2 linked regions of the Homo sapiens genome follow. The protein of the gene in region 1 interacts with the protein of each later gene in a biochemical or structural test. Each region holds a gene or a part of one and is shown in the gene's direction. Other genes may lie near its edges.

Region 1 (3,751 bases):
CTCGGGAGGCTGAGGCAGGAGAATCGCTTGAACCCGGGAGTCAGAGGTCGCAGTGAGCCGAGATCCTGCCACTGCATTCCAGCCTGGCGACAGAGCGAGACTCTGTCTCAAAATAAATAAATAAATAAAAAATAAAAAAAATTAGCCAGGAGTGGTGGCAGGTGCCTGTAATCCCAGCTACTTGGGAGGCTGAGGCAGGAGAATCTGTTGAATCCGGGAGGTGGAGTTTGCAGCGAGCCGATATTGCGCCACTGCACTCCAGCCTAGGCAACAGAGGGAGACTCCGTCTCAGAAAAGAAAAAAAAATAGAGGGCTGGGCGCGGTGTCTCACACCTGTAATCCCAGCACTTTGGGAGGCTAAGACGGGCAGATCATGAAGTCAGGAGATCGAGACCATCCTGGCTAACACGGTGAAACCCCGTCTCTACTAAAAATACAAAAAAATTAGCCAGGCGTGGTGGCGGGCACCTGTAGTCCCAGCTAATCGGGAGGCTGAGGCAGGAGAATGAAGTGAACTGGGAGGCGAAGCTTGCAGTGAGCAGAGATCGCGCCACTGCACTCCAGCCTGGGCGACAGGGTGAGACTCCGTCCCAAAAAGAAGAAAAAAAAAAAATAGCTGGCATGATGGCACACGCCTGTACTCAGGAGGCTGAGATGAGAGGATTGATTGATTCCAGGAGGTCGAGGCTGCAGTGAGCCATAATGGAGCAATTGCACTCCAGCCTGGGTGGCATTGAGACTTTGTCTCAAAAAACAAAACAAAACAAAAACATGGGTAGATTTGCTGTGGGGGGAAACTTTGTTATGGCTAGAAGCAGTTTACTTTAGAAAGGACATGCTCTTCCCAGTGCGTCAGAGTCCCCACCACTCTCTGTTATCCTACATGGCTCTATTAACTCATTAATGTCATCCAACTGGCCCTTAAAGGCACTGTGTTAGCACTCTCTGAGTTACAGAAATATGAATAACTAATGATCTTTTTCACTATTCATAAACCAGCATAATTTGGTCAAGCTCTAGTATTCTTCTGCTAAAAATAGAACAAACTCACACTGAATTTCTTTGGTGTCCTCTGTAATGTGCTCCTTTACCGTCATTCATTCACTTCATTTCTTCATTCAACACAGTTTTACCGGACACATATTTTGTGCCGGAGATCTTGCTGGACACAAGGAATACAGAGATGGTCAGAACAGAGTCCTATCTTTCCAAGAGATCTCATGCTTCTCTGAGCTGAACTTCTTTATCAGGATTCCTAACCACAGGGTGAACTCTGCTCTATTCCACAAACAAAGGTGCATTTATTGGTATCCCTGGTGTCACTTCCCTGCCTGTGATGTCAGTTCTCTCTCTGGACCCATTCCAGATCACACCCAGCCTAAAAGGTTACTTGGTGTACAGTGGAAAGTGTGACAGTCCAGGGACAAGCTAGAATTGATGGGTAAACTACCTCCCCACTCTGGGCTTCATTTCTTCACTGTAAAGCACAGGTTAGTGGGTGGGCTCTGGAGTCAGACAGCCTAGGGCCAAATGACTTTGGGCAAGTCATTTAACCTCTCTGAGCTTTAATTTCCTCATCTATAAAATAAGGATTGGCCAGGCATTGTGGCTTACACCTGTAATCCTAGCACTTTAGGAGGCCGAGGCGGGCAGATCATCTGAGGTCAGGAGTTTGAGACCAACCTGGCCAACATGGTGAAAACCTGTTTCTACTAAAAATACAAAAATGAGCCAGGTGTGGTGGTGGGTGCCTGTAATCCCAGCTACTTGGGAGGCTGAGGCAGGAGAATTACTTGATCCTGGGAGGTGGAGGCTGCAGTGAGCCAAGATCGCGCCACTGCACCCCAGCCTGGGAGACAGAGCAAGACTCTGTCTCAAAAATAAATAAATAAATAAAAATTAAAAAAATAAATCAATAAAATAAGGATCACAGGATATCTATCTTAGATACCCTGTTGTTCTAAGAATTGAATGAAATAATTCATCAGACGGGCTTAGCACAGTGCCTGGCATATAGTAAGTACTTAGTAAACGTTAGTTAAGAATATGACTGTATGACATTTTGCAACTAGTCTCCCCTCCTCTTGGAGGTGTCCCTAATTGGGTTAACCCCTTTGGGATTGTCCCTCTTCCAAATTCCGGCTGCCCTTCACAGTCAGTCATGTGATCATGTACTCTTGAGCACTGTTTGGCAGGCCTGAGGGTCGTACCCTTATCTTCCACTGCCTGTGTCAGTGCCGAGCACTTTCTAGCAGGAGCTTAATCAGTGTTTGTTGAACTCTAGATCTGTGGTCACGAACAAGTCATGGACGCTGCAAAGGCTCCTGCCCTTTCAAGAGCAGCTGAGATGAGGCCAGCCAAGCCCTGGGTGGAGGGGGCCAAGACCAGCCCAGGGCAGCACAAAGGGGTTGGGTTGTTCTTGAGCTTAGCATCAACTCTGCTTTTGGAGCGTCCAGAATAGGCCCCACTTCCCCTGGGCTTGTTGATTCTCTGGAAGGGCGGGTAGAAGTCTTGTTGTTTCCTTCTGCCCCAACAGGCCCTCCACGCCCTTCAGGAGGAGCAGGCCAGACTCAAGATGAGGCTGTGGGACCTGCAGCAGCTGAGAAAGGAGCTCGGGGACTCCCCCAAAGACAAGGTAAGGTGGGAGATCTGGTGTTGTTTGGTAAAAACGAGCTGGCGAGGCCGGGTGCGGTGGCTCACACCTGTAAACCCAGCACTTTGGTAGGCCAAGGGGGCCTGATCACCTCAGGTCAGGAGTTTGAGACCAGCCTGGCCAACACAGTGAAATCCCATCTCTACTAAAAATACAAAAATTAGGCCGGGCGCAGTGGCTCACGCCTGTAATCCCAGCACTTTGGGAGGCCGAGGCTGGTGGATCACCTGAGGTCAGTTTGAGACCAGCCTGGCCAACAGGGTGAAACCCCGTCTCTACTAAAAATACAAAAATTAGCTGGGTTTGGTGGCACATGCCTGTAATCCCAGCTACTTGGGAGGCTGAGTCCGAATTGCTTGAACCTGGGAAGTGGAGGTTGCAGTGAGCCAAGATCATGCCACTACACTCCAGCTGGGTGACAGAGCAAGACTCCCTTTAAAACAAAGAAACACAAAAAAGAGCTGGGGAGTTCTCGGTTTTATTCCTGGCTCTGCTACTTCCTTGCTGTGTGACCTCCATTATGTTACTTGAACATCTGTAAAGTAGAGCTACCCACCTCCCAGGACAAATTAAGATGTTGTATGTAAATTGCCCTGTATGGACCAGACCTGCATTCATCCACTCATTTATCCAGCTTTTCTTTCAGTAAATGTATTTATCTCCGGCACTCAGCATCAATGGAATGGAATCGGAGATGCCTTCCTCCTAGGTGGGAGTGAGGAACACTCCTACTCCCCTCCCCTACTTCCAGGTCCCATTTTCAGTGCCCAAGATCCCCCTGGTATTCCGAGGACACACCCAGCAGGACCCGGAAGTGCCTAAGTCTTTAGTTTCCAATTTGCGGATCCACTGCCCTCTGCTTGCGGGCTCTGCTCTGATCACCTTTGATGACCCCAAAGGTAAGCTCATGGGGAGCCTCAGGAGGGAGGTGGGGAGGGTTCCCAGTACTGACCCTGTTTCCCACCACCCAGTGGCTGAGCAGGTGCTGCAACAAAAGGAGCACACGATCAACATGGAGGAGTGCCGGCTGCGGGTGCAGGTCCAGCCCTTGGAGCTGCCCATGGTCACCACCATCCAGGTGATGGTATGACAGAATCC
Region 2 (3,751 bases), on another chromosome or scaffold:
CAGAATTCTGTCACATGGCTACCCCTAGCTACAAGGTAAGGTAAGCTGGAATTTTTTTTTTTTTTTTTTTTTTTTTTTAGCAATTCTTTTCCCAGTCTTTCTAGAGGAAGGCAAGGCAGAAGGGGTTTGGGATGGACGCTGAATGAACCAAACTATAGTTTTTTTCACATTTGAGGGCAATGAAATCATAGTCTTGAAAACCAAGGACCAGGCGATAGCCTTTTCACCCTGTGACTAGACAGGTCCCTGAGGGCACGGCTGATGTGGCCAATCTTCTGTAAATGCAAAGGTGCTTATGGCCCTAGAGCTTCAGCTCTAAGACATGAAAGTGAAGGTTCCTCCAGAATCACACACGTGCATTATTCAGCGCAAAGATCTGTGGTTTGGTGATTCTTCTTCTCCTTTCATAAGGTGAGAGGCAGCAGTTGGGGTGAATTTCCCCAGGAATGGTGGGAGATGTGGGCCTAGATCCTCCCGCTGCTTGGGAAGAGTCGTACTTTTCAGTTGGAAGCCTGCTCCAGGAATGGCGGGCTCCACCCTCTGCATGTGACGTACAGGGGCTGGTAACTGATGGAGCCTGAACATATATCTGGGTGTGAGGGATAAGCTTCGAACGCCACTTAAGTGTAGGTGGGAGCCAAAAGGTCACCCTGCCAATACATGATTACATGTCCTGTTGAGGAGAAAATACACAGGGACTATTTTCACCCTTCTGGAAATTGTGATTAGAAAATGCAAGGAGAAGGCCAAGACACTAAACTGGAGCTGGTAGGGAGGAAGCCTCAGCCCTGCTCAGGGTGCCTGGACAGTCCCCACCAGGGCCCAGCTAGGAAATGCCAGCCTTGTCCTTGGTCTTCGTCCCTAATGGCTCCCGGCGGGTGAGGGAACTGCCTGGGGATTCCCCATCGTTGAAGCGCTCTGTGAGTGACCCCCTCCTAAGCCCCTCCAGTAGGGGATTTCCCAGAATGTTCCCACGCCCCCAGGAAGCCTCTTCCTTAGCCACCCCCAAGCTGCTTGCGGTTCATGGTAGAGGTAGGTGGCATCAAATGACCCCACAGGTGAGGGATTTGCCTGAGGTGGGAAAAGAGGGAAGATAAAATTGGAAAGCCACCGGGGCTGAGGAATTATCTCATAGGAGAGAACTGTCAAACAGTATAACGTTTAAACAGACTTTAAAGGCAAGAAAGGATGGAGGGCACAGACTCTGAAGCCAGAGTGCCTCAATTCAAGTACCGGTGCTGCAACTTCCAAGCTGCGTGATCTTGAGCCAGTGACTTAACTTCTCTGTTCCTCTGTTTTTCCTCTTCTGTAAAACGGAGATAATATTTTCTACCACACAAGTTTGTTGAAAATATCAAATGTAATGATAACCATAAAATACTTAAAAGAGTGATTGGCACACGGAAGTATTCAATAAATGTTAGTTATTGGCCAGGCATGGATGATTCACGCCTGAAATCCCAGAACTTTGGGAGGCTGAGGCAGGCGGATCACTTGCGGTCAGAAGTTCAAAACCAGCCTGGCCAACATGGTGAAACCCCGTCTCTACTAGAAATACAAAAAGTTAGCCAAGTGTATTGGCGGGCACCTGTAACCCCAGCTACCCAGAAGGCTGAGGTGGGGAGAATTGCTTGAACCAGGGAGGCAGAGGTTGCGGTGAGCTGAGATTGCACCACTGCACTCCCAGTCTGGGCAACAGAGAGAGACTCTGTCTCAAAAATTAAATAAACAAATAAATGATAGTTAAGTTAACCTAGGCTATTTTTTTAAAAAAATTTTGGTTTCTATCCACCTTTTTCGTATAAATTGAGCCAGGTTACACCTTAGACCTATTAGATCAGAATCAGGCATCAGGATTGCTAAAGCTCCCCAGGGGACCCCAGTGTGTGGATGAGGTTGAGAATCATTGTTTTGGTCCAGTCTTTCCATTTTAAAGTGAGGCAACTGGAGCTGAATAGGGAAATCGAGTCACTGAGGATCACCCAGCCAGGACCAGGGCCCAAGTTCCTATTCCCATTTACCGCTGATGGAGCTCACCGTGGTCATGAGTTCAGGACCTGGCTCTGTGTCTGGAGGAAGGTCTGGCCTCGAGTCAGCCCTTGTCCAGAATATCTGGCCAGGTGACCCCCTCTCCATGCAGCCCAGGAGGCAGATGGTCAGCTCTATGATTGGAAGAATGTGAGTGACTCAGGGATCTTGTGTTGTGTTGTGTTGTGTGTGGGTCACCAAAACCGAGACCCAGCTTTCTCCTGGGAGACAACAGGGTAGCCAAGGACTTATTTTTTTGTTTTGTTTTGTTTTGTTTTTTGAGACAGAGTCTTGCTGGGTTGCCCAGGCTGAACTACAATGGTAAAATCTTGGCTCACTGCAACTTCTGCCTCCCAGGTTCAAGTGATTCTCCTGCCTCAGCCTCCGGAGTTGCTGGGACTACAGGCATGCGCCACCACGCCCGGCTAATTTTTGTATTTTTTGTAGAGACAGGGCTTCACCATGCTGGCCAGGCTGGTCTTGAATTCCTGACCTCAAGTGATCTGCCCACCTCAGCCTCCCAAAGTGCTGGGATTACAGGCGTGAGCCACAGCACCTGGCCAACTTTCTAGTGTTCTCGGGAGACCTTTGCCCACTCAAGTCTCCAGTCTCTCGGGGGAAGCAGTCAGTGTGAGAGAAGGAACACAGGGCCCCGAGCCAAGCCCTGCTCTGCGCCTCCCTCGCGGGCAATGAGTCTTTGCATCAAACACTCAAAGTTTCTGAACTTCTGAGAAAACAAGTGCCTTGAGGTGAATCCTATAGCACAGCTGTCACCAGCCTGTGGTCATTTTGGAGGGTATGTGGCATAGGTTTGTCCCAGGGTCTCAGTTGTCCTCATCTGTAGAGTGGGGATAATAACAGCTGACCTTCCCTATCCCACACAGAGCGTTATTGTGAGGAGTCTGATGGACCTGGATGAATTCTGAATAGGAGAAAGATGGGTACATGGATGCCCAAATGCAGGCTCACCCCCACCCCTCTCAGTAGCAGAAGACATGCATATGGGAGAAGCTGCATTTCCTCCCAGCCTCACTGTGCTCTAGGTGTCCAGCCCTCATTGTTAGGGGATGTCACTGTTGTACCTCTGGATAAACAGCTGCTCTCATGCCACCTTTGCCAGTTGTCCCTTCAGCTGGGCGAGCCCTTTCCAGGGCATGACTGCCCCAAGGAGGGCCAGAGGGGACTGGGCAATAGCAGGGACATGGAGGGACGAGGCCCCAGATCAGCCACTTCCTCCTGCAAGGGAAGTCAAACCCTTTCTCTCATAAGTGTCAGGCTGGCTGCACGGTCCCTGGGCTGGCAGGGCAGGTTTCTTGGGGGCCCTAGCAGGAAGCACTCTTGCTTCCCAAGGTAAAGACAAGTTTCTTATCACTGGCGGTGGTTTTCTGGTTAGAGGCAGCAGGCAGCGGTTACAAACTTTGCCTAGAGCTCTGGGATCTGCAAGCCAGGGAGGGGGAGGCAGACGACAGAGCTAGAGTGAGCTCAGCAGAGCTTGCTTAGGGAGGAAGGACCCGCTGTCACTTCCCGAAAGCTGGGCCAGCCTCTAGGCGGGGAGAAGGTCAGAGTGGCCCTCCCTTCTGCCTCGGGGTTTGCCCAGGCTCTTCAGAGCACAGAATTTACAGTAAATGTTGTCACCAGTGGAAACTCTCAGAGGGGGCGAAGAAAAGGGCTAGAGGAAGGAGCCAGGACTCCCGGCCCCCAGTTCCCGTCTTACCAACACCCC

What was found.
Region 2: the proteins of IFI35 (region 1) and BATF form a complex in vitro, tested with the Homo sapiens proteins (one study listed by BioGRID).

Annotation. Positions count from the first base shown.
Region 1 is NC_000017.11:43,009,643-43,013,393, forward strand, and holds part of IFI35 (interferon-induced 35 kDa protein), read left to right. Parts: intron 1-1,116; exon of another isoform or gene 1,117-1,295; intron 1,296-2,536; coding exon 2,537-2,635; intron 2,636-3,404; coding exon 3,405-3,552; intron 3,553-3,624; coding exon 3,625-3,731; coding exon of another isoform or gene 3,732-3,737; intron 3,738-3,751. UniProt on the Homo sapiens protein: Acts as a signaling pathway regulator involved in innate immune system response.
Region 2 is NC_000014.9:75,539,374-75,543,124, forward strand, and holds part of BATF (basic leucine zipper transcriptional factor ATF-like), read left to right. Parts: intron 1-3,751. UniProt on the Homo sapiens protein: AP-1 family transcription factor that controls the differentiation of lineage-specific cells in the immune system: specifically mediates the differentiation of T-helper 17 cells (Th17), follicular T-helper cells (TfH), CD8(+) dendritic cells and class-switch recombination (CSR) in B-cells.